Linked DNA regions of Homo sapiens: all the other regions are linked to region 4. Evidence: fine-mapped expression QTL. A gene starts in region 4. Each other region holds a variant in brackets. All regions are shown on one strand. Distances are from middle to middle. Region 1 overlaps PAK2 (p21 (RAC1) activated kinase 2). Region 2 has its middle 26 kb from the start of SENP5. Region 3 has its middle 24 kb from the start of CEP19. Region 4 holds the start of PAK2 (p21 (RAC1) activated kinase 2). Region 5 overlaps PAK2 (p21 (RAC1) activated kinase 2).

The links. PIP is the estimated chance that this variant, and not a neighbour inherited with it, causes the effect.
Region 1: its variant is fine-mapped to the expression of PAK2 in whole blood (TOPMed, PIP 0.98).
Region 2: its variant is fine-mapped to the expression of PAK2 in whole blood (INTERVAL, PIP above 0.99).
Region 3: its variant is fine-mapped to the expression of PAK2 in whole blood (TOPMed, PIP above 0.99).
Region 5: its variant is fine-mapped to the expression of PAK2 in whole blood (TOPMed, PIP above 0.99).

The regions. Positions count from the first base shown.
Region 1 is chr3:196,800,758-196,807,196 of GRCh38, reverse strand. It overlaps PAK2 (p21 (RAC1) activated kinase 2), which reads right to left. Exons shown (of 15, transcript NM_002577.4): 3 at 5,170-5,270; 4 at 4,033-4,180; 5 at 1,814-1,845; 6 at 511-618. Among named protein-coding and RNA genes, the nearest start is that of SENP5, 64 kb to the left of the region's middle. The variant ACACG/G (reference allele first, on the strand shown) is at 2,731.
Region 2 is chr3:196,838,882-196,845,320 of GRCh38, reverse strand. No RefSeq gene overlaps it. Among named protein-coding and RNA genes, the nearest start is that of SENP5, 26 kb to the left of the region's middle. RefSeq lists a silencer at 3,168-3,322. The variant A/G (reference allele first, on the strand shown) is at 3,819.
Region 3 is chr3:196,684,841-196,691,279 of GRCh38, reverse strand. No RefSeq gene overlaps it. Among named protein-coding and RNA genes, the nearest start is that of CEP19, 24 kb to the left of the region's middle. The variant C/G (reference allele first, on the strand shown) is at 2,796.
Region 4 is chr3:196,736,556-196,742,994 of GRCh38, reverse strand. It overlaps PAK2 (p21 (RAC1) activated kinase 2), which reads right to left and starts at 3,138. Exons shown (of 15, transcript NM_002577.4): 1 at 2,838-3,138. RefSeq lists a silencer at 2,558-3,347.
Region 5 is chr3:196,826,224-196,832,662 of GRCh38, reverse strand. PAK2 (p21 (RAC1) activated kinase 2) reads right to left here. Exons shown (of 15, transcript NM_002577.4): 14 at 5,330-5,467; 15 at 16-4,344. The coding sequence ends at 4,258. Among named protein-coding and RNA genes, the nearest start is that of SENP5, 38 kb to the left of the region's middle. The variant C/T (reference allele first, on the strand shown) is at 2,691.

The DNA.
Region 1 (6,439 bases), 64 kb before region 4:
GAGCAGAATGGTAACCGCAGTCATTCCTCTCTTCCTGGCTCCATTTAAGGTCATCATTTTTAAAATTCTCCCTTACCTGGTTAGGAATTTCATTCTCAACTGCCTTTTGAATGACAGCAAGGCGCTGAGAGTAGTGTAAAATGGGAGATTAAAATGCATAATCTGGGTAAGAGGAAAGCTCTAAGTTTTAGATTTAGTCGTCATCTACATTGAGATAAACAGAGAAAGCTTGGGAAATAGACGAACCCTCTGGAAAAGGTGTACTATACAAAGAAAAAAGCCCAGTGAGGTGAGTGCGTTAACTTTTAAAGACATCACATTTTAATCTTCAGAAAACTAGTTTTAGGTGAGTGGTCTTTGGGTACAGATTTCTTGGTTAAATTTCCCCATACTAAACGATTTTAAACTTGAGGGCTTTTTAAAAGCAATCACTGAAAGTCAAATACAAACTCTGCTATTTTTTAAAACACACGTGCACACACACAGCCTAGATCACCGATGGAGACTCACTGATTTCGTATGATCCGGTCGCGGGGCAATAACGGGAGGAGCAGTCTCTTCATCATCATCCTCCTCCTCTGTCACTACTGCGGGTGCTTCTGTTCCCTTGGCATTCAGCTGCATTGATGATGAGCAAAGTAAGGAAAACAAGTCCAATAGGCTTAAATGCGACTATCGCCCTTTATGAACGTACTTCAAAAAGTTTGCTTCTTTGATAGCTCATTTCAAAACCACTAAATCTCATTAGCTCTTAGATAACTCAATAGAATTATAATCTAACATAATAAGGCGATTCTATGAATCATGAAAAAGTTTATGAAATATATATATATGGTGAGTACCAAATATTTTAATAAAGTTACCCTAAGCATACATATACAATGTCCTGAAAGTAAACAATGTTACTTGTTAAGACCAAAATCAAAGATCCTCTGGGCTTTGTTATGTCAGAGACATCTGGTGACATTTAAAACAGTCAGATTTGGGGCCGGGCATGGTGGCTCACGTCTGTAATCCCAGCACTTTGGGAGGCCGAGGTGGGTGGATCACAAGGTCAGGAGATCAAGACCATCCTGGCTAACACGGTAAAACCCCGTCTCTACTAAAAACACAAAAAATTAGCTGGTCGTGGTGGCAGGCGCCTGTAGTCCCAGCTACTCGGGAGGCTGAGGCAGGAGAATGGAGTGAACCCAGAAGACGGTGCGTGCAGTGAGCCAAGATTGCGCCACTGCACTCCAGCCTGGGCGACAGAGCGAGACTCTAACTCAAAAAAAATAAAAATAAAATAAATAAATAAATAAAATAAAATAAAATATAAAAAAATAAAACTCCAGGAGACTGTTTCCTCCCAATTGAGAAACTGCAAATAAAACGACTGTTTCCAAAAACTGACTGTGTTTATGCGATAACTTAAGTTTCAGATGACTCTGAAGACTGACAAGGTTCAACTGTTCAGCACCTTTCCACAGTCTATATTCAGTAAAATAGTACCAGAAGGAAAACTGAGGGATGGAGAGGAAAATATATGCTAGCAAGTTCTTTGTGTTCACGTTTGTATATGTTAACATTACCAAAACTAACTAAACTGTTCTGAAGGTCATTATAAATTTTAGTTACATTAAGTATCACATCAAGGAATTTCTATTTAATACGGCTTCTTCAACTAATCAGGTGGCTAGCTAAAAACACCTATTGAGTAGTTATTTACCTCTGATGGCTGTAATTTATTTTAGAAAGCAAAATAAAAACTGAGATTTGTCTTGGGTAACCTAAATTAGAACAAGAGATACAAGAAATAATATAATTAACTTACTGCTGGTGTTCCAGAAGGAAAGCCATCTTTCTCTGAATATGAAACAAAACATAACATTAGCAATTCAAGAAACAGCACTTTTATATGATAAAAGGAAAAAAAAAAAGCAGAGAAAGTGAAATGTTCTTAAACTGATTTCAAGTTGAATTAACTCTTGAGAAAAATGAACACGCAAGTAGTCAAATAAGAATTTATATAAGACCAAGGTAAGAAATCTGAAATCTACATGAAACTATAAATTTAGTAAAAATCAGTGAATTATATATTTAAAATGGGTGAATTGTATTGCATGTAAATTATACCTCAATAAAGCTATCAAAATTTAGTTTGAAAGTATACCTATCAATCTGTATTTATTAAAACAAAACAAATTTATTGATAAAGATACTTTCTCCAGAAAACTGCTGACTGAGGAACTTAATGCAACAATTAAGACAATGACAATTGTGCAAAGTAAAATTCTGACATTGTTTTGTTTTTCTTTTAAAAATGCCCAGAGACATACATATATGTGTGTGTGTGTGTATATGTGTGTGTGTATATATATATATATATGTGTATATATATATATATATATCACACACACACACACATATCACATATTACATACGCACAGGCCGGGCGCGGTGGCTCATGCCTGTAATCCTAGCACTTTGGGAGGCCGAGAGACAGGCAGATCACCTGAGGTTGGGAGTTCAAGACCAGCCTGACCAACATGGAGAAACCCAGTCTCTACTAAAAATACAAAATTAGCCAGGTGTGGCGGCGCATGCTTGTAATCTCAGCTACTCAGGAGGCTGAGGCAGGAGAATTGCTTGAACCCGGGAGGCGGGGGTTCTGGCAAGCCGAGATTGTGCCACTGCACTCCAGCCTGGGCAACAGAGTAAACTCCAGCTCAAAAACAAAACAAAACACAC[ACACG/G]CACGCGCGTGCGCACACACATATATGTATGTATGTGTACTAGGTGAAAATAAGCTACCATTTTGTGGTCAAACATTGGTTTTTCAAAAAAATTACTAATTTACACACAGACTTACTGGTTGATAGAAAAGTTCTAGGAGCAAGTGTGACCTTTTCCTAACGGTGTACTAGACTCAACAAAAAAAGGTCAAGATCACTTGAAAAAGATTTCTATTTCTCCCTTGCACATGGCCTTTGTTTCTGTGAGGATGCAAACAGTAAGTAAAATCAATTAAAACCACATGTACGATTTTAGCTCCATCATATTGCTTTTGAAAACCACATGTATGACTTCAGAGACAGACAAACATATTGAAAAATGACATCCTGAGGATGTAGTGAGCAAAATCTAAACTGAGGGAAACAGGACAAATGATCTTGTTTCTGTAATAAATAAACGTCAAGAAAAGACAGCATGAACCAGTGTGTGGGAGGGGAAGCCTAAAGATCAAAAGAGATTCAAGAGATGTATCAACCAACTGCGTTGTATGAACTTTATTCTGATCTTTATTTGAACAAAAACTATTTTTAAAAATCCACTACACCAACTCTTACACTATATACCAATTCACTGGTTCTCTCATAGGTTAACGGTATATCTCAGATACTGAGCAACTTGGAAAACAAAGTACATCAAACCCCATTTCCATCCAGCTATATTCATCCAGAAAGTAAAATTTGCATTACTGTGACTATGTAGATGATATTCCAGATATTCCATTTCTGAGGTATAAATCCTTTTAGTTCTAACGCTTCTTTCGTATATGATTTATCTGTTTTATATATTAAAATACATATATTCTATTATCTGCACACTTGCGAGTTTCAATTTTTTGAGTGGACCTAAACATTTTTTAGTTCAACCTCCTCTTGTCCCGCTAACAATAAATGTGTTTCTAGTATGAACATGTCTATCAACCAGCGTCTTTTCCTTTGATTGCTGGAAGTCATTTAAAAGCAGTGAAGAGTGAAAAATGAAAACAAAAACACAGCAATGAGGAGAAAAAACCAAATAAACAAAAAGCCAAAATATCCATCAACTCCCGTTTCTGGCAAACCTATGAGATTACTATAATTCACAGATCCAAATTATGCTTCAGAACTGCCCTGGATCAGTCTACAAAAGGTAGAATCTATCCAGGGAAAAACCGTTATCAACAAGAACCATAGTTTAGCTTTTCATTTTTCCAGGAGTAATCTTTTTATCTAGAAGTGCTTCACAAATCTCCATCTGATCCAGCCTTATGCCACTCTCTTACCAGGAGGAGTAAAGCTCAGATATTTCTGCTTCACTGTGTTGGAGTCGTAGAACTTTAGGACATCCAGCACAGCCTGAGGATTCTTCTTTTGCTCTAGTTTGGTGATATTGGAGGTCTGTAGTAATCGAGCCCACTGTTCTGGCATGCCCTAACAAGAAGATATTCAGAAATTAGTTATGGTTTAAATTGATGCAATAAAATTAATTTCCAGAGATAAATGACAAAATACACAAAACAAACCAATCTTTTGAGTGTAGGTTTGAGTAAATTTTAAAAGATCTCATTTTCTAAAGGTCTATTTTTTCTTTTTTCTTTTTTTGAGACAGAGTCTCACTCTGTCACCCAGGCTGGAGTGCAGTCGTGCGAGATCTCGGCTCACTGCAAGCTCCACCTCCCGGGTTCAGGCCATTCTCCTGCCTCAGCCTCCAGAGTGGCTGGGACTACAGGTGCCCGCCACCACGCCTGGCTAATTTTTTGTATTTTTAGTAGAGACGGGGTTTCACCATGTTAGCCAGGATAGTTTCAATCTCCTGACCTCGTGATCCACCCGCCTCGGCCTCCCAAAGTGCTGGGATTACACAGGCGTGAGCCACCGCGCCCGGCCTAGGTCTATTTTTTCTAAGTCTGTTTTGCATAACTATAATTAATAGGCTCTGCTCTCTAGGAAAACGATATATCCAACCACTAACACTTTTATAAAAAGCAAAAAGCAGTAAGAATTCATAGTTAACGTATAGATAGAAATGTTAATTTCCCTTTTTTTGAGACGGAGTTTCACTCTTCTTGCCCAGGCTGGAGTGCAATGGCACAGTCTCTGTTCACTGCAACCTCCATCTCCGAGGTTCAAATGATTCCCCTGCCTCAGCCTCCTGAGTAGTTGGAATTACAGGCATACACCCCCACGCTTGGCTAATTTTCTTGTATTTTTAGTAGGGATGGGGTTTCACCATGTTGGCCACACTGGTCTCGAACTCCTGACCTCAAATGATCTGCCAGCCTTGGCCTCCCAAAGTGCTGGGATTACAGGCGTGTGCCACCGCACCTGGCCTGAAATGTTAATTTCAAATTTAATAATGAAGGAAAATGTTTGAGTGCTATTTTAAACGTTATAAATGGGCCCGAACTAGGTTAACTTACAGTGAATTCTCCAGTAACAGCATCAAAGCCAACATGGATGGTGTGCTCAAAATCAGATGGAGGAGAAATTTCTGGCCGTTCCTTTTCTTTCTTTTTACTTCCTAGGGGGCATTAGAAAAAAAGAGAAAGAATCAGCCTATTTAAACAAGACTAGTAAAGGCACTTATAATTTTATTTTTTGTCTTTTGTTTTTTTAAATGGAGTTTCGCTCTTGTTGCCCAGGCTGGAGTGCAGTGGTGCAATCTCAGCTGACTGCAACCTCTGCTTCCCGGGTTCAAGCCATCCTCCTGCCTCAGTCTCCCAAGTAGCTGGGATTACAGGTGCCCACCACCATGCCCGGCTAATTTTTGTATTTTTAGTAGAGACAGGGTTTCATCATGTTGATCAGGCTGGTCTCAAACTCCTGATCCACCTGCCTTGGCCTCCCAAAGTGCTGAGATTACAGATGTGAGCCACCGCATGCCCGGCATATTATGTTTATATTTTTCCTAAAACATATTAGGATCAAAGTTATTCTAGAAAACACACTAGAATCAAAGTTATTCTAGAAAAGATTTCCCCTAAAAACTGGCTGATAGGAAACTAGTAAATGAAGTAAAGCAGACTGTCCTGCCATAGAGTAGGGCTGGACACAACCAAACACTGAGGAGGCACATGGAGTGACCAACGGCAGGCCTGAGTAACAGAGCACAGGCAGAAGAGACACCCCCTTCGGGCACCAGCTCTCTCACAAAGGGCTACATCTCAGATGCTGAGCAATGTGGACAGCAAACACAGCAAACCCCATTTCCACTCAGCTACATTCATCAGGAAGTCAGATTTGCATTACTGTGACTCCGCAGATAATACACACTGTCAAGACAAGTAGTTGACAAAACCACCTCTCCTTTTTTGTGCAAGCATAATCCTTTTTTAGTGGAGTTACTAATTGCCACATTTTAAAACTATGCAGTTTTTCTATGGTCCGATTGTAAATTATTTCTGCAACATTTCTGCCACACACCTATCAATAATGTTCTCTGTGAACTCCAACACATCAGTTCCTTCCCCCTACCCCCTCCCTCTCAGCTCCTCCTGCTCTAATCTGCAGTAGCTCATGCCTACGCTTCCTGCAGTTACCGTCCATGACATCCCTTCACTCCTGCCCTGTATGTGCTGGAATCTATTTTCTGGATCTTACGTTTTCCTCTTGATTTATCCCTTTAGTGATAGTTCTTCACTAATTTTATATATATATAAGTTGGAACCCTCAGCATTTCCAGTGTTGCCA
Region 2 (6,439 bases), 100 kb before region 4:
AGTGTCTAGTCAGAAAGGTTACTTACACACTAGAGGCAGCTACTACTGGCACTTTTTTTTTTTTTTTAAGAGATAGGGTCTTGCTCTGTTGTTCCAGACTGGAGTGCAGTACTGCAAGCATTTCTATTATCTACATCTCAATCAACGCCTGAGGCTCAGTTAACAAGCTGAGTGATGATCAGAAATAGATTTTTTGGCTGGGTGTGGGGGTTCACACCTGTAATCCCAACACTTTGGGAGGCCGAGGCGGGAGGATCACTTGAGCCTAGGAGTTTGAGATCAGCCTGAAACCGCTATTGCAAAATTGTAACTGAGTCAGTGAAAGAGATCCGACCTAACCGACTCCATCTTGCGTCTAACCTCCAAGCTGCCCTTGTTCATTCCTGGGCGTAGGCTGAACTAACTTGGGGGGAAACTTAATTTATAGTTTAAAACAAAGACGGTAACAGCCCTTTCCCAAAGCAGACCTCCTTCTTGCCGGGGGACTAGACTAACATTAGTCACAAGATTAGAAATGATGGTTTAGGAGCCATGCAGCTGGAGGCTACAAGATTCTGACCCTCCCTACACTGCTCCTAAGATCAGCGCTTGAGATACTTTGCAGACTCCACACTTGATGGATCAGCTGGCACCACCCAGATGGATAAACTGGCTCATCTGATCTTGTGGCCCCGACCCAGGAACTGACTCAGCGCAAGAAGACAGCTTCAATTTCCCATGATTTCCTCTCCGGCCCAACCAATCAACACTCTCTCACTGGCCTTCCCCCACCCACCAAATTATCCTTAAAAACACTGATCCCCCAATGCCTGGAGAGACTGATTTGAATAATAATAAAACCGCGATCTCCTGTACAGCCGGCTCTGCGTGAATTACTCTTTCTGTACTGCAGTTCCCCTGTCGTGAGGTATCAGTTCTGCCTAGGCAACGGGCAAGGGGAACCCATTGTGCAGTCACAAGCCTGGGCAACATAGTGAGACCCCATCCGTACAAAAAATAAAAAAAGTAGCCAGCTGTAGTGGCGAGCATCTCTGCTCCCAGTTACTCAGGAAGCTGAACTGGAAGGATTGCTTGAGCCCAGGAGGTCAAAGCTATAGTGAGCCATGATCACACCACTGCCCTCCAGCCTAGGCAGCAGAGCTAGACACTGTCTCGATAAATAAATAAATAAATGGAAAAAGAAATGGCTGTTTCCTGATGAACTGAGTTGCTTGTTAATTGGTAATGAGGTCATCAGTGGGCTCTCATCAGTGAAATGAAAGGTGTTCGGGATCCTTCCATTGGCTAAAGTTATTTGAGAGACTCCTGCTGCCTTTGCATAAACAAGGTGTAAGAATCTAGTGAGGTCAGCAACGCGACCCCTTAGGAATGGCCCTCAGGGCTCCATCGTTACATAATCCTGTGACCAGCCACTAGTTAAGAGGATGTCTGGTTACATGATGCCATCTTTAAGGGTAACAGAATCCTGGCCCCTGGCACGTTTCCCTCTCTGCCTCAAGTGAACTTTTCATGCAAAGTTGTGGACAGAGCATTTGGGACAGAGAGCATGGATTATAGTGAGCTACAGGATAGGCTGAACAAACACTTTTGCTGACAAATGTTTGCTTAAATGAGCTTTCAGGTGTGTGACAAGATTTGGTCTGCGACTTGCTTTCATTATAATCTGGCAGGGGGGTTGTCAGAAGTTAGTTAACCCTCACCACCTCAAACTCCATAGGTAGCTATAACTTTACAGAAACAACCTAAGCATGTCCGGGTGAGGTGGCTCACACCTGTAATCCAAGCACTTTAGAAGGTTGAAGCGGTGGATCACTTGAGGCTAGGGGTTCAAGACCAGCCTGGGTCACATGGTGAAACCCGTCTACAAAAAAACACAAAAATTAGCCGGGTGTGGTGGCTGTAGTCCCTACTTGAGAGGCTGAGGTGTTAGGATCACTTGAGCCTGGGAGGTGGAGTTTACAGTGAGCTGAGATCGCACCACTGCACTCCAGCCCGAGTGACAGTGTGAAACCCTGTCTCAAAAAAAAAAAAAAAAAGGAAAAAAACAACCAAACAAAAATGAGGCATGATCAAACCTGGCTTAGGTTCATTTGCAACAATCTGCAGACCACGTTTTTCTTTATCCCTTTGTCAGAGGTGTTTGAACCGGAGTGACTCCATCTTGAATAAGGACTGGTTAAAATAAGGCTGAGGCCTGGAGGTCAGCACAAGATACAGGTCATAAAGACCCTGCTGATAAAACAAGATGTGTTACCAAGCCAGCCAAAACCCACCAAAACCAAGACGGCAATGAGGTGACCTCTGGTGGTCCTCACTGTTCATTAGACGCTAATTATAATGCATTAGCTGCTGAAGGACACTCCCGCCAGCACCATGACAGTTTACAAATGACATGGCAACGTCAGGAAATTACACTGTATGGTCTAAAAAGGGGAGGAATCCTCAGTTCCGGGAATTGCTCACCCCCTTCCTGGAAAACTCATGAACAATCCACCCCTTGTTTAGCATAACTGTAAGTATATTCAGTCAAGCAGCCCAAGCTGCCGCGCTGCCTATGGAGCAGACGTGCTCTATTCCTTTCTTTTCCTTTTTTTTTGAGACGGAGTTTTGCTCTTGTGGCCCAGGCAGGAGGAGCTCAATGGCACAGTCTCGGCTCCCTGCAACCTCTGCTCCCGGGTTTAAGTGATTCTCCTACCTCAGCCTCCCGAGTAGCTGGGATTACAGGCGCATGCCAACACTCCCAGCTAATTTTTGTATTTTTAGTAAAGATGGGGTTTCACCATGTTGGCAGGATGGTCTCGATCTCTTGACCTGGTGATCCGCCTGCCTCGGCCTCCCAAAGTGCTGGGATTACAGGTGTGAGCCACCCCGCCCGGCCCTATTCCTTTACTTTCTTAATAAACTTGCTTTCAGTTTACTCCGTGGACTCCCCTGGAATTATTTCTTGCATGAGGTCCAAGAACCCTCTCCTGGGGGATTGGGTCCCTTTCCATGAACACCTTTCTACCTCTTCTCCTTCCAAAAGTCCAGAGTTTACTCAGCCACAAAAGCTCCTCAATATAAAGTCTACCAAAGGCCAGGTGCAGGGGCTCACACCTGTAATCCCAGCACTTTGGGAGGCTGTGGCGGACGGATCACAAGGTCAGGAGTCCAAGACCAGCCTGGCCAATATGCTGAAACGTCTCTACTGAAAATACAAAAATTAGCCAGGCATGGTGGTGGGCGCCTGTAGTCCAGCTACTGGGGAGGCTGAGGCAGGAGAATCGCTTGAACCTGGGAGGCGGAGCTTGCAGTGAGCCGATTACACCACTGCACTCCAGCCTGGGTGACAGAGTGAGATTGCGCCCCCCACCCCCCAAAAAAAGAAAAAAATAAAGTCCACCAAACTCTGCAATTCTGAAAGAGGCCAGTCTTCAAAATTGCCTTTTGTGCCTCATTTCCCTATCCACTAATTCAGACACACAACAGGCCCTCAGCATGTTTAGGAGTTATGACTGAAGAGCATCTGAATGGCGAGTATTAAAGTTTGCACTAAATTATCCTGAAAAGGAGGCAAAGGGGGTATACAACGTTCATTCATCTCTATTGGATGCCTTTTTTTCTTCCTCCTAGAAGCAGGATCCCTGAATTAGGATAGGCTGAAATTTATAGGCTTCCCAACTATTCTCCTTTTTGAATATTATTATTATTATTATTATTATTATTATTATTATTATTTTGAGATGGAGTTTCACTCTTTGTGCCCAGGCTGGAGTGCAATGGCATGATCTCAGCTCACTGCAACTTCCACCTCCTGGGTTCAAGCGATTCTCCTGCCT[A/G]AGCCTCCCAAGTAGCTGGGACTATAGGAGTGCGCCACCACACCCGGCTAATTTTGTATTTTTAGTAGAAACAGGGTTTCACCATGTTGCCCAGGCTGGTCTTGAACTCCTGACCTCAGGTGATCCACCCACCTCAGCCTCCCACAGTGCTGGGATTACAGGCATAAGCCCCGGTGCTGGCCTCTACAGGCTACTTTATGGCTTCTGTAAAGTGTCTCTTTATACTAAAATTTAGAGGACTATGTATTTCTGACTTTGAACCAATGTTTCATTTATCTGGCTTAAATTGAATTAAATTGTTTCTCTTTTGAAGTGCAATTTCAACTATCCATAAAATAGTTTCCAATCCAACATTTAAAATCTTTCAGTAAAATCCTCCCTTTTTGTTTATTTATTTATTTTTTGAGACAGAGTCTCACTCCATCACCCCAGGCTGGAGTGCAATGGTGCGATCTCGGCTCACTGCAACCTCTGCCTCCTGGGTTCAAGCAATTCTCCTGCCTCAGCCTCCTGAGTAGCTGGGATTACAGGCGCACGCCACCATGCCCAACTAATTTTTGTATTTTTGTAGAGATGGGGTTTCACCATGTTGGCCAGGCTGGTCTGGAACTCCTGACCTCAGGTGATCCAAAGTGCTGGGATTACAGGAGTGACCATTTCTAGGTACTTTGTATTTTTGATCTGTTATAAATGGTAGATTTTTAAGATTATGTGTTCTATTTGTTGCTAGTGCTTAGCAATATAATAGACTCTTGCACACTGATTTTGCATACAGCAAACTTGCTAAATTTCTTAATTTTAATAGTTTATCATATCAACCTTATCTGAAAATAATGAGATTTTATCTTGCTTTCCAATTCCTTTTTTTTTTTTTTTTTTCGAGACCAAGTCTCACTCTGTTGCCCAGTCTGGAGTGCAGTGGCGTGATCTCGGCTCACTAAAACCTCCACCTCCCAGGTTCAAGTGATTCTCCTGCCTCAGCCTCCAGGATTACAGGTGCCCACCACCACGCCCGGGTAATTTTGTATTTTTAGTAGAGACCAGGTTTCACCATGTTGGCCAGGCTGATCTCAAACTCCTGACCTCAGGTGATCCACCTGCCTCGGCCTCCCAAAGTGCTGGGATTATAGCCGTGAGTCATTGTGCCCAGCCATTGCTTTCAAATTCTTTTTTTTTTTTTTGAGATGGAGTTTCGCTCTTGTTGCCCAGGCTGGAGTGCAATGGTGTGATCTCGGCTCACCACAACCTCAGCCTCCCGGGTTCAAGTGATTCAGTTCACTCCTGGCTGGCACAGTGGCTTCACTGTAATCCCAGAACTTTCGGAGGCCGAGGCACGTGGATCACCTGAGGTCAGGAGTTCAAGACCAGCCTGGCCAACATGGTGAAACCCCGTCTCTACTAAGAATACAAAAATTAGCCAGGTGTGGTGGCTCACACCTGTAATCCCAGCTACTCGGGAGGCTGAGGGAGGAGAATTGCTTGAACCTGGGAGGCGGAGGTTGCAGTGAGCTGAGATCATGCCACTGCACTGCAGTCTGGGCAACAGAGCAAGACTCTATCTCGGAAAAAAAAAGTTCACTCCTAATTTGCTAAAATATATATTTTTAATCATGAATTGATACTGAATTTTACTAAATGCTTTTTTTTTTTTTGAGATGGAGTTTTGCTCTTTTTGCCGAAGCTGGAGTGCAATGGAGAGGTCTCAGCTCACTGCAACCTCTGCCTCCCAGGTTCAAGTGATTCTGCTGCTTCAGCCTCCCGAGTAGCTGGGATTACAGGTACATGCCACCATGCCCGGCTAATTTTTGTATTTTTAGTAGATACAGGGTTTCACCATGTTGGTCAGGCTGGTCTCGAACTCCTTACCTCAGGTGATCCACCCACCTCGGCCTCCTAAAGTGCTGGGATTACAGGCGTGAGCCACCGTGCCCAGCCAATGCTTTTTTTTTTTTTTTTTTAAGAGACAGTGTCACTCTGTCATGTGGGCTGGAGTGCAATGGTGCAATCACAGGTCACTGCAACCTTGAACTCCTGGGCTCAAGCCATTCTCCTAGCTCAGCCTCCAGAGTAGCCAGGACTATAGGTGTGCTACCATACCTGGCTAATGTTTTTTTATTAGGTTTTTTAGAGACAGGGTCTCACTATGTTGCCCATGCTGGTCTTGAGCCTGGCCTCAAGTGATTCTCCTGTGTTGTCCTCTCAGAGTGCTGGGATTACAGGTGTGAACCACTGGGCTCAGCCACTCTCTTTAATCTGTTGAGATGCCCAGATAATCTACTAATACTGTAAATTATCTTGATTTTTACATGCATAAGCCTACTTGTTTAGGATGCACTACCTCTTTCATACATTGCTAGATTCGGTTTGCTAGTAATATATTTAATAATTGCACATTTGTATTTATGAGATTATCCTATACTTTTTTTTTTTTTTTTTGAGACGGAGTTTTACTCTTGTTGCCCAGGCTGGAGTGCAACGGCACGATCTCGGCTCACTGCAACCTCTACCTCCTGGGTTAAAGTGATTCTCCTGTCTCAGCCTCCTGAGTAGCTGGGATTATAGGTGCATGCCACCATGCCCAGCTAAAGAGAGGGAGTTTCACCATGTTGGCCAGGCTGGTC
Region 3 (6,439 bases), 52 kb after region 4:
AAACCTGCAAACCACCAGAGATGATGGCTTTCTTCGCTATCTCTTTTCTTTTTTGAGATGGAGTCTCGCTCTGTCACCCAGGCTGGAGTGCAATGGCGTGATCTTGGCTTACTGCATCCTCTGCCTCCCGGGTTCAAGCGATTCTCCTGCCTCAGCCTCCCGAGTAGCTGGGATTACAGGTGTGCGCCACCAAGTCTGGCTAATTTTTGTATTTTTAGAAGAGACAGAGTCTCACCACCTTGGCCAGGCTGGTCTTGAACTCCTGACCTCAGGTGATCTGCCCACCTCGGCCTCCCGAAGTGCTGGGATTACAGGTGTGAGCCACCGTGCCCGGCCTCTCCACCGTCTCTGGTGGACACAACACCCCGTCTCTTAGGTGCCTGATTCTCAGACAGGACTCAGGAGCAGAGACCAGATAAATCTCAGATTTGTCTGAGCTTATTTACTTCTGGAGTTTTCTAAATAGCTCTCTCTCTTCCCTGGGGTGGGTTGCTTTTTTTTTTTTTAAGGCAGTTTTTTCAATCTTTTGGGTAGTAGCTCTTGAGTCTGTAAAGCCTGGTAATTTTCTAGAGGTAATTGGCATTAACCATCAAGACTCTCCTCACATGCTCCCTTCCCACTCTGGCACCCTCCTCCCACAGGCCTTCCTCCCGTCCTGCTGCCTCCATCAGTCTCTTCCTCTGGCAGCCAAGGGTTGCCTCTCCAAGTGGTCCCAGGAGAGAAATCCTAGGGCCACGTATCAGTCAGAACACTAGTCCTGGACACCTGTGTTTCTCCTGCCCGCAGGCAGACCCTTCGGGAGACACTTGACCAGCGCAGGCCCTTGGGGGGCAGCTCGCCAGGTAGGACCCCTCCCTGCCAGCTGGGGTTTCCCAGCTCCCCACGCTTGAGTTCTCCTACCTAGAATCTTCTTAGGACTACTTTTAACAGCTGCAGTCCTCTCTGCTTGCTTTACGCCTCCCGAGACTCGTTGTTGCAAAAGTCTTTCTGTGCTAGAGACCCAAACTTTGAATCTCTACTCAAGCTAGTGGTTCTTAGACTTCAGCATGCACCAGACTCATCTGTGGGACTCACGATAGCGCAGATTGCTGCGTTCCACCCCCAGAATTTCTGATTCAGTAAGTCTGGGGTGGAGCCTAAGAATTTGCATTTATTTTCCTTTTTCTTTTTTTAATTTGTTTGAGATAGAGTCTCGCTCTTGTCACCCAGCCTGGAGTGCAGTGGCGCAATCTCAGCTCACTGCAACTCCCACCTCCCAGGTTTAAGCAATTATCCTGTCTCAGCCTCCTGAGTAGCTGGGATTACAGACGTGTGCCACCACGCCTGGCTAATTTTTATATTTTTAGTAGGGACAGGGTTTTGCCGTGTTGGCCAGGCTGGTCTTGAACTCCTGACCTCAGGTGATCCGCCTGCCTTGGCCTCCCAAAGTGCTGGGATTACAGGTGTGAGCCACTGCGCCTGGCCAAGAAATTGCATTTCTAACAAGCCCCCAGACCACACTTTGAGAAGCGCTGTGCGAGGCTTTTGCTTTCCTTCACTGTTGCTGTGGGTATTGGTGTTCCAACCCACAATTCCCTTTTGCTCATACTAGCTTCAGTATATTCCAGTGTCTCTCTGCTTATAGGCTTTTTGTAATAATCTTATTTCTATGGAATTCTGATATACTATGGCCTTTTTTTTTTTTTTTTTGAGACGGAGTCTTGCTCTGTCGCCCAGGCTGGAGTGCAGTGGCACGATCTCTGCTCACTGCAAGCCCCGCCTCCCAGGTTCACGCCATTCTCCTGCCTCAGCCTCCCGAGTAGCTGGGACTACAGGCGCCCGCCACCACGCCCGGCTAATTTCTTGTATTTTTAGTAGAGACGGGGTTTCACCATGTTAGCCAGGATGGTCTCGATCTCCTGACCTCGTGATCCGCCCGCCTTGGCCTCCCAATATACTGTGGCCTTCTATTTTAACTATCCTACGACCACTGGCTCTGTGGGCCAGGGTTTCACCCTCACACAGGTGCTATGCACTTAGAAGGCATTCTTTTTTTTTTTTTTTTTTTTTTTTTCAGATGGAGTTTCGCTCTTGTTGCCCAGGCTGGAGTGCAGTGGCGCCATCTCAGCTCACCACAACCTCCGCCTCCGCCTCCCGGGTTCAAGTGATTCTCCTGCCTCAGCCTCCTGAGTAGCTAGGATTATAGGCACACACCACCACACCCAGCTAATTTTGTATTTTAGTAGAGACAGGGTTTCTCCATGTTGGTCAGGCTGGTCTCGAACTCCCGACCTCAGGTGATCTGCCCGCCTCGGCCTCCCAAAGTGCTGGGATTACAGGCATGAGCCACCGTGCCTGGCCTAGAAGGCATTCTTGCTGAAGAAATTCGGCGGAGGGAAGGATTCATGCAGGCTGGAGCAACAGGGAAAGCTTCACAAAAGGAGTTGGAGTTGAGTGTGTCCTCAAAGGGAGATTTGTCTGTGTAGAAGGGAGAGGAACGAGCATTCCTGACAATGGCTCCTGGACATAGGAGCATTTGTTGGGATGACACGGAGGAACAGACTCTCACTGGAACACACATCTCTTCAATGAGGTGGTGAAATACATCATGGGAAGGAGCCTGTCTGTACCAGAACTCTTACAACCTATTAAGTGCAATTAGCCTCGCTGTAGCCAAAGGGATGTTGATTTTGCTCAGCAGATTGTTATTCAGGATCCCCAGGGACAGTGGTGCTGTGTGGGCAAAGCAGCGTGGGCAGCAGCAGCGTGGGAATGGGTGTGTTCACTCCCGAAGCCCAGGACAGATAACTCCACTT[C/G]TTGTTTCTGTAGAAAGAAGTGTGGCAAGAGCTGACCCGAGGAAGAAGCTTTGCTCAATAGGAAATGAGCTATGATGATGAAATGAGGAAGCCCTGCTGGGCTTCAGCTTGATGGTTCTGAATTATAAAGAGAAAAGAATGTGCAAAAAGCGAATATGATCGTGGAAAACTGGAAACACTCCAAATATCGAAAACTGGAAACACTCCAAATATCCATCAATAAGACATTGGTTAAGTGAATTGCGCAGTGTCCATGCTGCGGCATACTATGAAACCCTTAGGCAGAAGAAGGTAGCACTGGGCATAGTGACCTGGAAATAACTCCTAGCTACATGGTTAAGTGAGGAAAACAAGTTGCCAAATAGTATATTATAATTCTTTGATTTAAAAAATATATCAGTAAAAACTCTTGAATGAGGCCAGGTGCAGTGGCTCACACCTGTGATCCCAGGACTTTGGGAGGCCGAGGCGGGCGGATCACCTGAGGGCAGGAGTTTGAGACCAGCCTAACCAACATGTAGAAACCCCATCTCTACTAAAAATACAAAATTTAGCCGGGCGTGGTGGCGCATGCCTTTAATCCCAGCTACTCGGGAGGCTGAGGCAGGAGAATCGCTTGAGCCTGGGAGGCAGAGGTTGCAGTGAGCCGAGATCACACCATTGCACTCCAGCCTGGGCAACAAGAGCAAAACTCAGTCTCAAAACAAAAACAAAAACAAAACAAAACTCTTGAATGATGTGTGCAAAGTGACTGTTAACAGTTTGCCTGTGGAAAGAGGAGTGGGGTTAAAGTGGGAGATAGAGAGCTTAAGTGACTTTTCATTTTTTATTTTTAAAATTAAATTTCTGAATGGTTTAAATTTTTTCAAACATGCAATTGAAATAAATTCCAGCTAATGTGTACTCAGTGCCAGACACTGCTCTAGGTGTTTTAGGCCTATTATTTAATCCTCCCAACAAACCTCTGGAGATAGGTATTATTAATCTCCCCCATTTTGCAAATTAGAAAACTGAGGGCCGGAGCAGTGAAGCAGCCTGTCCAAGGTCACACACTAATAAGTGGGAGAGTTGAAATTTGAACCCACGTCATGTGGCTCCAGCATCTATGGACTGACCCTCTCACTGCAAGGCCCTCGATGGACCATGTTGGTCCATGGGATGGTAACTGTAACTGTAATAAGATTCCAGTAAAAACCGCACAAAAACTATGTGCATAGAAAAAGCAATGGGAGTCTCTATAGTTGTCCCTTTAAAACATGGATCCAAAGATTCACTCTGAATTCCAGCTCAGACAGGCTAATTCAGGCATGAAATATAGTGATTTCAGAACACAAGGAAAGCCTCACTTCTCCCTCCTACCCCAAACTGTTGGTTAACATTTCTTGAACAAGGACTAACTTTTTACCACCCAAATAGCGATCAAGCTTAATATGTGAATATTTCTGGACAAGGCGTAACTATCTCAAATTTAATTGTGTATATCTCTGATTTAATATTATCAAGGTGTAAATAGCAATCACATACAAAAAGCAGGTTGTGATAAGAGATGGGGAAAAGGCAGGAAGGAGGGACTCAGAGCATGATAGGGTACATATGGGGAAGGCAGACGGCAGCAGACTATCATATACTAGTTATCAATGATACTTCTTTACAGTGATAGAAGCCTTCCCTTTCCTAAGAACTTCCTATGTATTTACACATTTGATCTTGACAACTTATGAACTAGAGAAGACAGATTTCTTCATTTTATTGATAGGGAAAACCAGGCTCCAGGAGGCTGTGACTTGGTAAATTACCAAGTTGGAACCGGAACCCAAAACTCCTGATTCTCCCTCGAGGATTCTTGAATTACACCCAGACACTTCAGCCACATCACAACTTCACCCAGCATTAGGTCTGAGTCAGCATCAGTGTAAGAAAATGTAGCAGACAAAAGCTCCAGAGGTTAAAGGGAGCAATAGGACCCTGGCCAGGACCCACTAAAGGACATCCAGGTGGAAGGACAGAGGAAGAGCCCAGGTCAACATAGGGGATGCCAAGGTCACAGGCTGGGGGAATGGCCCCAGTGCTGACACCAAGCAGCTAGGAAACAGGGCAGAAGTTTTGATTGTGGCATCTATATGCCAGGACTTTGCTCCCACCACTTCTCCCATGCTGCCCCCATTTCTAGAATCTTCCTCCTATTTCTTTCCCTTCATTCTTTGCTTTCCTCTCCCACTCTAGCTCCAAACTCGCATTTGCAGTTGTATAAAGGGGGGAAATACATGAATTTTTAGAAATAAAATTTGTCTTACCAATGGGATTGGAATTGTAATCCCATTCTCTTAAACTCATTTTAAACCCCTACTAAATCTTTGAACCTTTTCTACTTTATCACATGGTTAGAATGGGTGAAGTTCCATTACTCAATTCTTTCATCACTTAATTAAATCCAATTAATCTATTGACTGCTTTGCTCAATCTTTTTTTTTTTTTTTTCCAGACAGAGTCTTGATCTGTCGTCCAGGCTGGAGTGCAGTGGCACAATCTCGGCTCACTGCAACCTCTGCCTCCCGGGTTCAAGCGATTCTCCTGCCTCAGCCTCCCGAGTAGCTGGGATTACAGGCATGTGCCACCACACCCGGCTAAATTTTTTGTACTTTTAATAGAGATGGGTTTCACCATGTTGGCCAGGCTGGTTTCTAACTCCTGACCTCAGGTGATCCGCCTGCCTCGGCCTCCCAAAGTGCTGGGATTACAGGCCTGAGCCACCGCGCCTGGCCAATCTGTTTAATCTTGAATTCTCTTCATATTCTTTCTATGACTAGTGCTACAGCGGTGCTGGATGTTTAAGTGATCTTCAGCTGAATTCCGCATCTCCCATGGCTTTGACTCTGTAGTCACCTCCCCTAAAAGTCATGCTGATGACCTGAAGACATGGACACGCTCCACAATCCATGCGATATAGAGGAGAAGGAAAATAAGAATGAAAACAAATACTAAACACTATCATTCCTCTAGGGTAGGGGTGTCCAATCTTTTTTCTCCCCACATTAAAAGAAGAATTGTCTTGGGCCATACATTAAAAAATACACTAACACTAATGATAGCTGATGAACTAAAAAAAAAAAAAGTCACAAAAAAAAGCTTATCAATTTGTGTTGGGCTGCATTCAAAGCCACCTGGGCCACATGCAGCCCGCGGGCAGCAGGTGGGACAAGCTTGCTCTAGGGTAAGTGGATGACTCCTGGAACTTCCTGCAATGTGTGGTTGGACCACTGATAGTCGTGGGCGGGAGAAAGCACTGAGGAGGCAAGACAATGAGCGATTCGAACGCGGCTGTGCATGACAAGGAAGACACTGCGTGGTTTTTGTTTTACACTTTGCACATTTTATTTTTAGCCTCGCCACTGCCCACATGGTTCTAAAAATTACCACCAGGGGGCAGAAGGGTGCCAATGTCCATTGTCTCTGCTACGTTTGGGTTTTCCTTTCCGAATTTCCTCACAGAAGAATTTCTGATCCTATTATACAGATTAAGAAACCAAGGAGCAGAGTGAAGTAAGTGGTAGGCAATCCAGCATTTTGTGAGTGGCAGTGGCAGGAGTTAAACACTGGTTTGGGTAAATACAAGGACTAGGCACTTTCAGAGCTCACCTGAGTTT
Region 4 (6,439 bases):
TACCAAACTGATGGAAACCTTTACGACTTAAAGTCTTGAAGTTGACCCAGTTTCTTTTTCTTTTTCTTTTTTAATGAGACGGAGTCTCGCTCTGTAGCCCAGGCGGGAGTGCAGTGGCGCGATCTCGACTCACTGCAAGCTCCGCCTCCCGGGTTCATCACGCCATTCTCCGGCCTCAGCCTCCCGAGTAGCTGGGACTACAGGCGCCTGCCACCAAGCCCGGCTAATTTTTTGTTGTATTTTTAGTAGAGACGGGGTTTCACTGTGTTAGCCAGGATGGTCTTGATCTCCTGACCTCGTGATCCGCCCGCCTCGGCCTCCCAAAGTGCTGGGATTACAGGCGTGAGCCACCGCGCCCGGCGAAGAAGACCCAGTTTCAAATTTTAACCAAAAGTGTAAAAGTCAGAAAGCCAAAAGAAATATACTCAAATATTATTATAATAATAATCGATTTTGATGGATAAAAGGAAGAATCTAACAATTCCTACTCATTTTATCCTTGGCTACTTGAAGTTCTTAAATATTAGAAAAGTATAATTGAAAGTTTATCTTTAGCTACCTGAACAAGTTCTAGTCTCTCTTAAAAAGTATAATTGAAATAGAAACTGTTGGTGGTGTGCCGTGGCTCACGCCTATCCCAGCATTTTGGGAGGCTGAGGCGGGCAGATGACCTGAGGTCGGGAGTTCGAGACCAGCCTAACCAACACGGTGAAACCCCATCTCTACTAAAAATACAAAATTAGCCGCGCGTGGTGGCGCGTGCCTGTAATCCCAGCTACTCAGCAGGCTGAGACAGGAGAATCGCTTGAACCCAGGAGGCGGAGGTTGCGGTGATCGCACCATTGCACTCCAGCCTGGGCAACTGAAACTCCGTCTCAAAAAAAAAAAAAAAAAAGAAATATTAATTGTTAACCGCATCTACTTGGGAACCTGTCTATCATAAAGATCAGAGAGCCCTATCGCCTGTATACTCGAACTATAAACTTAATTTTGAATTTGGGTTTGCAAGGTTAGTATTAAATAGCACGGAGTCCAGAATAGTATCTCTCTCTGAATGAGAGTAAACCATAAACCAAGGCCCTAAGGGAAGTGAAATACCCAGGAACTCTTCCTTCATAAAAATATCTGCTGATTAGAAGAAACTGGCAGAGAAGCCAACATCTACAGACCAAGTTTCAAACTCCAACAAAACTCCAACCTTTCTACACCTTAATCCCTCAGGCCAATAAAACATCCATTAAGTTAAGGACAACTGATACTACTATTTAAGAAATGATGACAGTATTGAAGCTGAGTATTGGAGCCACTTTTTTCAGAGCCTTGCTGGAGGGAAAGGTAACAATGGGCTACTTAGTGAAAACACAAAATACACTGAATTTAGGTCAACCTGTTACCAAATCGGAAAGTTGGTTTAAGACCTACATCTATTACAGGTTCACTTTCCGTAATAAGTGTCAATCAATGTGCTTGGCTAATAAGTAGCTCGAAAGATTTAATAGCCGAGGATGACACAGTGAAAAAGTTGCCTGAAATCCATACTCCTAACAGAACATGAAAAAGGCTCTTCATATATACACGAGCATGAGTGGGCTTTACAGAAGCCACAGACCTTCTGGCAAAGTTGACAAGTTTTAACCTGCTTTAAAAATTACTATTCACTGCCTTCATCCCAATGTAACTTTACTGAGTGTTATTCTATTGGACAACCCTACAAAAACAAAATCCCCAGAGCAAATTCTTGTACATTTCAATATCCTGCCTACTTATAAGAGCGGAAGAGTCGAACACAGCAGGGGAAAAAACGTGACGTGCACAACCTTGATCCAAAACACAGCTCTTCGTAGTTTAATTTTAGGCCTAACCATTTTGTCTTTTTATAAAGGTTAAAAAAGAAAACAAAGAAAGGACACATCGCCTGTAACGCAGAAGTGAGATAATGATATCAACCGGAGTTCGTTATTTATCAAGGGACAACAAATCACGCTCACACTGCCCAGGGAGAGTACTACTAAAATTAAGATACAAGGATGGGTACAACCTCACACCCACTGACGATGACACGCTTCTGTTCTTGGATGACTTATCTTTAAAGAATTAGTTAAAAGGTTGAGTGGCAACGTTTTGTGTTTGTGCGTGCGTGTGTTTCCAAGAGAGCCAAACATGGTGAAAAACCAATCTTAACTTCACCTAAGTTATCTAAAGAAGCAAATTTCACCCCTAGGCTGAAGCTCAAACAGGAGCGAGGAGAAGCTCCGAAAGATCAGTTCGTAAGCGGTGGCCCTCAAGCGCCCGGGACGCTCTACGTTTTTACCAATGTGGAATGTGGAAAAGAGGTTACAGGCTGGAGCTGAGAAAACAGTCAAGCTACTCGCGACAATATTCCTGAGCAGTGAAACGGGTGAACAGAGAGCGAGCAAGCAGGGGCTGAGAATCAGTGAGAGGAAAAATCAAGGAACAAAACCGGAGAGTCTGGTCCAGCATTAAGAAAACGGAGCAAAGGAAGAGGGTGAAACGCGAGGGGAGGGAAGACCGAGAGTCGGCAGAGACCGTGGTGCCGCGAGGTTCAGAGCAGGGCTGGGTCCAGGAAGAGTCAGACCTCCGCAGCCCAGCGAGCTTCCCATTTCTGGCTAAAGCCAGCGAAGAAAACGGCCCTGGGGAGCAGACAATGAGCCACCGCCCCAGGAGCTGCGGCTCCCAGCACGCAGGTGGCGGCTCCCCGGCCCCGCGCGGGGCAGGTCGGCCGTCCCGGGCCGCTCCCGCCCGCCAGGCCACGGAGAAGGAAGGAGGAGGAAGAGACCCGGCCTGCGTCCCGCGCCGGCCGGCCTGTGTGCACTTACCCCGGGCAAGGCAAGGTCCCCGCCCCAGCGAGGCGCCTCGGTCAGAGCTCCCGGCGGGCTGCGGAGCCGCCCCGGGCTAGCGCGCGGTGCGGGGAGGGGAGGGGAGGGAAGGGGAAGCGGGGCGGGAAGAGACGCCGCGCTGGAGCAGCCGCTGCTACCGCTAGGCCCAGCGGCGGCGGAGTCCTGCGCACGCCAGGGAGGGGAGGGGAGGGAGCCTTCGGCAATGGCGACGGCCCGGGCCGGAGGGGAAGCGGAACAACCGCCGCCGCTGCGCGTGGCCACAACCCTGGGGGAGGAAGACGGCGGGGAGCGGGGCGGGGCGGGGCCAGAACCCAGAACCCCTCCCGCCCCGAAGCCGGAGCTCCCCGGGGCGGAGACGAGCGCCACCTCCCATGGGCAGGCCCGCGCGGGGGCCGCTGGGAGTAGTAGTTCGGTGATAGACGTTGCTTTTATTCCTTGGGTAGTCTTTGTATTGAGAGGAGCAGCCAGTCCCTCATTTAATTCAGCATTGTCTCCAAGCAGGTCTCTGCCGACGGAAGACGCTGACAGACGATTGCTGTTATACACATCTGCTCCGCGACATTTGTTTCTGGGAATTCATCCGTTATCCATTTTGCTTTTTTGCTTACAAATTCTTAACTAAAATTTTGCTGCTAAATTAAGTATCACCTCCTTGCAAATTAAGACTTCCCTATTTTATCCACGGAGGAGTTCATCAATGTTTCACTTATTCTACAAATATTTGAGTGTCTGATATGGACTAGACACTGTTAAGCATCAGAAATACAAGGGTGGTTCAGGTGCGGTGGCTCACGCCTGTAATCCCAGCACTTTGGGAGGCTGAGGCAGGCGGATCACCTGAGGTCGGGAGTTCGAGACCAGCCTGGCCAACACGATGAAACCCCGTTTCTACTAAAAATACAAAAATTAGCTGGGCATGGTGGCACGCATCTGTAGTCCCAGCTACTCGGGAGACTAAGGCAGGAGAATCGCTTGAACCCAGGAGGAGGAGGCTGCAGTGAGCCAAGATCGGGCCACTGCACTTCAGCGTGACAGAGTCGTCATGCCTCAAAAACAAAACAAAAAACACAAAAGAAATGCAAGGGTGAACACGATTCACCAAGCCTTTGTGGAGCTTATATGAGGACGCAGTAATTAAAGTAGTCACACCTGGTATAAGAAAAAACTTGGCGAGGTTACTTTGGATAGGGTGGTCGGAGAAGGCCTCGTTAAGGAGGTGACACTTAAGGCAAGAACAGAAAGAGACAGCAATAAGAAGCACCCAGAGAAAAGCAATACAGGCAGGAGAAGAAAGAAAAGGGCTTGCTACGGTCAGTTAAGAAGGCCTGTGTAGCTGGGGCCTAGAACAAGAAGGCGGTACTATTAAGAAAACACTACAGCAGACAAGATTCAGGTCATGAAAGATCCTGAATGCCATGGTAAAAAGTCTATATTACAAAAAACCATTAAAAGGCTTTTTTAAGCAGGAAAGCGATGTTACCTGGCTTACACTTTAAGATCACTAGACTGCAATGTGGATAATGGAGTATAGAGATGCAAGAATAGAAGGGAAATAAAGTAGGAAGGCAGTGGAAAGAAAGAGGAATTGTGCTTCTCTATCAATGTAGAGCAAAAAACTCAATTGATGCAGTGGGTACAGGAGAGAAAGGAATCAAGGAGCAACATGGCACAGTAAGAGATAACCTGAAAAATGCTCTGATTATTAAACACACAGAAACACTGGATAAATAAGACATCCTTTCAAAGGCATAACTTGCAAGAATGAAAATAGAATGTTTCTGACAGTCTTCCAAATTTCACACTCAACCTGAAGAAGGGGCAGGACACCAGAGTGGTAAGCAGGGCAGTGAAGCCATGGTTGTGTTGAGGGCACCTACTTATCTCAGAAATCTCTAGAGTTTTAATAGGTGCACAGGAAACTAAAGACAAGGACTTGGGCCTATACAAGAAGTCAGGACTGTGATCCTGCATAGGACTGGAAATTCAAGGCGCTATACCCTCCAAGAACAGACTGGGGGGAAAAAAAACCCTATGCTAGCCCAGGGAGACACACAGGACATTTGTTTACTTTGGCCTGCAGTGGGCTTGCAGGGCAGAAGAAAATTTTCCCTTTAGAATTAATAACCCTTTAGAATTTTCCCTCACTAAGGTTTTAAAGTTCAAATTTGTCAAGAAAGTGGTCCCAGGCTGGAGTTCTGGGGGGCCTGGAAGAAACAAATACAAATCCTGACTGCACAGGTGTACCCTCAACCTCGGTCTCAAAGGATTTCACAGATAAACAGGATTTCCGAAGCCAAACATGAGCACCCGAAATACAATACACCTGAGGAAATAAGCAGCGATGAGTGAGTCAATAGAAACTACAAAGAACATAATGAAACCCACACAGACTTTAGCTGCTGGAATTGATGGCTACAGAATATACAGTACGCCTATTTAAATGATTAAAGAAAGTAAGACAGGAGCTAGAAAACACGAGCAAGAAACAAGATGCTTTTTTTTTTTAACGACCAAACAGCTTTGAAAATGAAATAAGTAGGCCAGGCGCGGTGGCTCACACCTGTAATCCCAGCAGTTTGGGAGGCCGAGGTGGGCAGATCACCCGAGGTCAGGAGTTCGAGACCAGCCTGGCCAACATGGTGAAACCCCAGTCTCTACTAAAAATGCAAAAATTAGCCAGGCGTGGTGGTGGGCACCTGTAGTCCCACCTACTCAGGAGGCTGAGGCAGGAGAATCACTTGAACCTGGGAGGTGGAGGTTGCAGTAAGCCAAGAACATGCCATTGCACTCCAGCCTGGGCAACAAGAGCAAAACTCCGTCTCAAAACAAAAACAACAACAACAAAAGAATTAAGTAGAATTTCTAGAAACAAAGAATAACTGAAACCAAAGCCAATGTTTGGTTAAATAGCAGATTACACACAATTGAAGAGAAAATTAGTAAACTGGAAGACAGACCAAAAGAAATTACTGAGAACAGCCTAGAGACAGGAAAAATGAAAGCAAGCTTAAGAGACATGGGGATAGATTGTTAAGGTCTCTACCATACTCCTAATGAGAATTCCAGGAGAGAAAAGAGAAAAACCAAGAGAGGCAGATAATGATGAGATAATGGCTGAAAAATTTCCAGAATTGATTAAAGACAGGAATCTTCAGATTCAGGAAGCAAACTGAATACCAAGCAGGATAAGTAAAGAAATTTCAAACACATGAAAATGAAACCGCAGAATACCAGAGATAAAGCAACCAGAGAGAAAAGACATTCTGTACAAACAACTATTACATTCATAGCAGATTTCACAACAGCAAAACGGGTGCCAGTCAATAATGGTATATTTTCAAAGTACCAAGAGAAAATAACCAAGCTTAGAAGTGTACAGCTACCGGCTGGGCACAGTGGCTCACACCTGTAATCCCAGCACTTTAGGAGGCTGAGGTGGGCAGATCACCTGAGATCAGGAGTTCAAGACCAGCCTGGCCAACAACGGCAAAACCCTGTCTCTGCTAAAAATATAAAAAATAGCAGGGTGTGGTGGTGTGCGCCTGTAGTCCCAGCTACTTGGTAGGCTGAGGCAGGAGAAT
Region 5 (6,439 bases), 90 kb before region 4:
GATGGCACAACACCATTAAAAGGTTTAAAACATTTATCACTAAAAATACTAAATGTTCTTTGAAAACCTATTAAGACATTTAAATATTCTTTTATGCTATCAAAAGACATTAAAATATTCTTTTACGCTGATCAAAAGAAAGAATAAAAGTTTAGGAAAGGGAAAAATGCACACTTTTTTTAAAAAGTTTATTTCTAGCCCTGAAAGAACAAAATTATTGAACAAAGTCAAAATACAGCAGTTAATGTCAATGTATAACAATTAAATAATTGAACGGGATTAAATTAAAAATAAAAGGCATAAAATTTGAAGACAACAGAAAAGACAAAAACTACTTTTGCTTAATTCCATTTCTATCAAAACAAGAAAAAAAAAGCCAATGCGTTCCAACCAAAGATGTTGAATTCCACACGTAACTGTTTCTCTTATTACTTCTGTTCTCTTAGAAACACTTCTAAGTTCTAAGAGAACAGAAGTGTGCTTGACAGAACTATCATCCATTTCTTTCTGCCTCTGTCTTGGCAGCTTTCTAGAGAAGTGAATGGGAAAGACTTCGGTTCTTTCAAGGCCAGGCCAGCGCTTGCTTCTTCTTTCGAACTCCAACCTCATCCACCACAGCATCTTTGCCAGAGTGTTCAATCAATGTGTTGACTGAGAAAAAAGAATGTGTGTATCTATTTTTTCTTATATACACACACTATCAAAAAACTGATTTTACCAGTTTCAATACCTACTGTGGGAGCAGCGGAGACAGGAAGACAATCTGCTTTTTGTATTACTATGAAGTTCCACTATAAAAAACCCCAAATGAGTATTAATCTGGATTTTAGCTATAATCTATAATATTTTGACACTGACATTTCACTAGATGTGGATCTCAGTATATTTTAAAAGATTTAGACTCAAAAATGGATGCAAATTCTTTAAGCATCTATTTTGTTTTTTTCTAATTTTAGCTACTACCTGATCAGATCTAAAATTATTCTGGCTAGAATACAGTATATACAAACATGTATTTAAGTGAGCCCTAAAAGAAATACTCATAGGTGGTTTAGAATCGCTTGTTAGAGGCACAGGTTCGTTTACAGTTGCTGGTTACTAGACTGTACGCAGCTGGACACTTCTATGTTAAAGGGAAGAGAATGAATACTATGTGCCAGGCAGTCAACACATGAAGACAGAGTTGTATTAGCCTCAGTGTCTTATGCTTCACAATTACTCGTTTACTTTCAGGTAGGATAAAATGTTCCATGTTTCATAGTTTCCCAGTTTTAATTGTCCCTAAAAGCAGCAGAAGAAAAAAGAAAAAGAGAAGATAACTTTAAATCTAAAATAAAATAAATAAGTACTATAATAATACTGTCCTAATAACACAAGAGGACTATTAAGGTAACTTTCAGATTTAAATGGGAATTTTCATTCTAAAGTGATGACAAAAAGGGTAAATATAAAAGGCAATTATTTAAAAAACATGAGGCCAGGTGCAGTGGCTCACGCCTGTAACTGCAGCACTTTGGGAGGCCAAGGTGGGCAGACTGCCTGAGCTCAGGAGTTGGAGACCAGCCTGGGCAATGTGGTGAGACTCTGTCTCTACTAAAAATACAAAAAAATAGCTGGGTGTGGTGGCGGGTGCCTGTGGTCTCAGCTACTCAGGAGGCTGAGGCATGAGAATTGCTTGAACCCAGGAAGCGGAGGTTGCAGTGAGCTGAGATCATGTCACTGCACTCCAGCCTGAGTGACAGAGTGAGACTCTGTATCAAAAAAAATAAAAATAAAAAACATGAATCTTGATTCAGATATAATTTTTCTTTCAACAAGTTCTGAATGTTTTAAAATTAATAAATCACAATTCTGTATTACTTTTAAGATTGTTTAAAAATGACACATTTCAAAATTAACCAAAGTATATTTCTGTTAGAGGTTAGTTTATCCACGTAACTTAAGAATAAACCACAGCGTAGCTCCCTTAACCAAAGAGCCAGGTTTTAATGACAAGTCAGTTGCCAGCAATGGACGTGCAGGTAACTATCGAAGAAGTCGCAACTACAAATCCCAAACTGCTTCTATCAATGGAAAAGCCCTTTGTTGAGTCACAAGCCTGAAACGAGGCGTTGGCACATAGTCAGTGAGGATGGTCTTTGACTTAGGAGGGAAGTGCCTCTGAGTACATGAGGATCACAGTCTTCTCATCTCGTTGGTTTTCTATTTCATTGGTAGCATCTTCTTTATCATAATCCATCCAACTGTTTACAAAGAATGGTAAAATTTGGAACTCAGGTGGCACTGCAGCTTTCTGCCAGAAATAAACCAGTTTCTATAATTCAGTAATAGCTGTAGAAGGCCAATATATTCCAGAGAAAAATGAAATCAAGAATTATATTGAAAACAGAGACCATTAAGTGCTCTAAATATGTTTCATTAATTATTTTACTCATTTTTCTGAAAATCTTGCCTTATCAATAAAAAACAGTCACTTCTCTCCTTATAATTGCATCTTATCATAGATATAGTGGAAATAAAATAATGGAAATAAAACCTGCCAGTTTCTCCAATGTATACTACAACAGCAAAATTATTTTTTATTCATGATTTATACTACTGCAGGATGGCAAGCAGGGGGGAAGTTAATGGGGGAAGGGGATGGTGGGAACAAAATGCCAGAACCAAACCACAGATACTTGAACAACACC[C/T]ACTCCAAAAGCAAAACAATGAATAAAGGAGAAGAAGAGGAGAGGAAAAAAGAGAAGAGAAAAGGGAGGGGAGGGGAGAAGGGAGGGCACTCAAATAATTAATGCTACAGGTCTCAGACCTTTTAGAATCTTTAAAAGAAACAAATTATTGCTATCAACACGCACATTTCATTTTCCTTTCTCGTTTTTTACAATAGTCTCTACTTATTTGAAAAAACAAAACAAAACTAAACTAAAGTAACTCAACATCTCAAATGATCTATAAATTCATCAAGAAATACTCTGTCGCTCAAGTTCTCATAGATAATACCACACTGCTGACGACCTGGGGCAATGCCACCGCCGCCAAGTCTCTACAGTCGATTTGCTATCGGCTGCTTCTCTGTAACACTAACATTCTCTTTCATGAGTATAATCTCTTCTCACTGTATCAGAGCTCACCAAGGTTCACATCTCTTACTGCCTCTGCTGCTAGTCCCAAATATTTTTCTCCTTTAAGTGGAAAAAAGCTAATTTTTAAATTCCTGAAAATTCACTGGTTATTATATTATTTGCCATGGGAGGGGGTATCTGTGAGGTGAGAGAGGATTAATGAAAAAGAAAAAGAACAAACCTAAACCTAAAATTGCAACATATACAGAAATTTATTTCCAAATTGAAGGGGGAAAGGAGGGAAGAAGGTAGTGGCACTAACCAAAGTCACAAAGCCCAGGTTGGAACAACAACAAATCACTTTGGTTCCTAGAGCCAAGCCTGAAGGGGAAACAGGCAGAAGGGAAGACAAAATGGGAAGAAGTCTACAGTCAATGGGAATCTTTTTCTATCTCAATGATTTAGTTATAAATAGAGATTATTAGTCTTCTCTCTATACATGTAACAAATGCCGAACTTACTACCACGAAATTTCTAAAACTGACTTTTTCACATTTGTTAAAAAAGGTAAAAATCACATACTTTTCTTCCCTTCCTTCAGGTCAAGTTCTGAACTAAAATATTACATGTAACAACAGCTGGTCCTAACTTTTATACAAAGTGAAACTATATAGAGCTCCTTTGCCAACATAAGGAGCTACATAATTTCTATTACACTTGCCTAGGCATGAGAAACGCAAAAGCAACTCAAAAGGAGCAAGTCCAGGAAAAGAAAAGCTATGAAGGAGAGAAAGACTAGCAGATGAAACACATACTCTGAAAAACTCCAATCTGCCATTCAAGTATTGGAAATACCCCAAAGGGGACAATGAATGGGATCTATTACAACAAAGTCAGCAAAGTAAAATGCAAATCTCACACATGATAAATGGCCCTGATAGGCTGTTTGCTGAAAGACCTAAGGCTAGTGATTCAGTCCACAATTCCTTCTGGACCCTAAAGAAGGGGTTCATATAAAAGTCATACTTGTCTTTTTGCAATTTTCTCTTGGTTGTCTTCAGAGAATAGTCATTTGCTTCTTTCATTCAGGTTATGCAGACCATTTCTTTAAACCCCAAAAAGAGTAATAATTTTCATATACTAAAAGGCTTCTTGTAGAAAATGGAAAAAAGAGTATGAGGCCACAGCAGTGATGTTAACGGTTACTCTTCATTGCTTCTTTAGCTGCCATGATCAGTGGTGTCAAGCTAGATAACGGTTTGGCCAGTTTCAGGAAAGGATGCTGCCAGAAAGAAGGGGAAAAATAAATGTATAAGTGCCATTCATCAGGTTAGAAACAAAATAATTTTGTTCAATTAAGCCCCAAAGACTACTTGTCGATCATAATTTAATAAACTAAACACATATTAATACCTTCATAAGACTAACATAATCAACGCATTACTTTCAGAGTTGAATGAAAGCAGAATCATTTTAGTTTGACAAATATACACACAACAGCAATAAACAGGTCTGAGGAGTGATACGATGCACAAACTGTAAACAGGTCTGAGGATTGATACGATGCACAAACTGTAAACAGGTCTGAGGATTGATACGATGCACAAACTGTAAACAGGTCTGAGGATTGATACGATGCACAAACTGTAAACAGGTCTGAGGATTGATACGATGCACAAACTGTAAACAGGTCTGAGGATTGATACGATGCACAAACTGTAAACAGGTCTGAGGATTGATACGATGCACAAACTGTAAACAGGTCTGAGGATTGATACGATGCACAAACTGCACATTACGGTTTTGTCAGAATTTTATTCACAGCAGATGAAACCCTCACTTTTTTTTTTAATACTTTAAGTTCTAGGGTACATGCGCACAACGTGCAGGTTTGTTACATATGTACACATGTGCCATGTTGCTGTGCTGCACCTGTTAACTCATCATTTACATTAGGTATATCTCCTAATGCTATCCCTCCCCACTCCCCCCACCCCACAACAGGCCCCGGTGTGTGATGTTCCCCTTCCTGTGTCCAGGTGTTCTCATTGTTCAATTCCCACCTATGAGTGGGAACATGCAGTGTTTGGTTTTCTGTCCTTGCGGTAGTTTGCTCAGCATGGTAGGATGAAACCCTAAATTGCAGCAGCTGCCATACCGCTGGTGATCAATGAGTAGTGAAATCTACTTATTAGCCCTAGGAAAGCTTTCTGTCGGTTACCAAAAAAGTCAACTATTCCCCCAAATGAAATCATTTTTAAATTTACCTGTAATAATTCTTTGGCTGAACCCCTTTTTTCCACATCCATTTCCAAACATCGATTTAAGAAATCCCGAAATATTGGGGAAAGTTTCTCTGGATTCTGAAGTTCTGGGGTTCCATTAGTTGCTATTAGGTACAAGGCCTAAAAATAGAAGAACATCTTTGATCCACTTAAGATAGCTCAACACGGTCACAGAGCACTCCATAAAGTCTAAGGGATTCTTTCTTCTTTAAAGAAAATCACCATAAATACTAAACTGGGGTTATCATTATCCCATTTAAATTTAGATTTGATACTTTCCTCTTATTTTTAGATGTTACATTTCCTTAAGTTACTTTTCTGAAATCAGATTCACCTTTGGTTTTTCTTCGGTTATAAATGCAATACATATTGCTTTTGTTTTGTTTTTTTTTGTTGAGACGGAATCTTGCTCTGTCACCCAGGCTGGAGTGCAGTGGTGCAATCTTGGCTCACTGCAACCTCTGCCTCCTGGGTTCAAGTGACTTTCCTGCCTCAGCCTCCCGAGTAGCTGGGATTACAGATGCATACCACCATGACCTGCTAATCTTTGTATTTTTAGTAGAGGTGGGGTTTCATCATATTGGTCAGGCTGGTCTTGAACTCCTGACCTCAAATGATCCACCTGCCTCGGCCTCCCAAAGTGCTGGATTGCAGGTGTGAGCCACTGTGCCCAGCCCATATTGCTTTAAAAAATAAAACAATGTTAATAATTAAAAATAACCACAACCTCACCATTGACCATCCTGTTTAGGTTTCTCAAATTTTTTTCAAGTCATACATATCATTAAAAAAAATGAGATTTGTTAAAACTTAAAAAACAAAAAACAAAACAAAAAAAAACCAAGGCCGGGCATGGTGGCTCACGCCTGTAATCCCAGTACTTTGGGAGGCTAAGGCGGGCCGGTCACGAGGTCAGGAGATTGAGAGCATCCTGACTAACATGGTGAAACCCTGTCTCTACTAAAAAATACAAAAAATTAGCCGGGCGTGGTGGTGGGCGCCTGTAGTCCCAGCTACTCGGGAGGCTGAGGCAGGACAATGACGTGAACCCGGGAGGCAGAGCTTGCAGTGAGCCGAGATTGCGCCACTGCA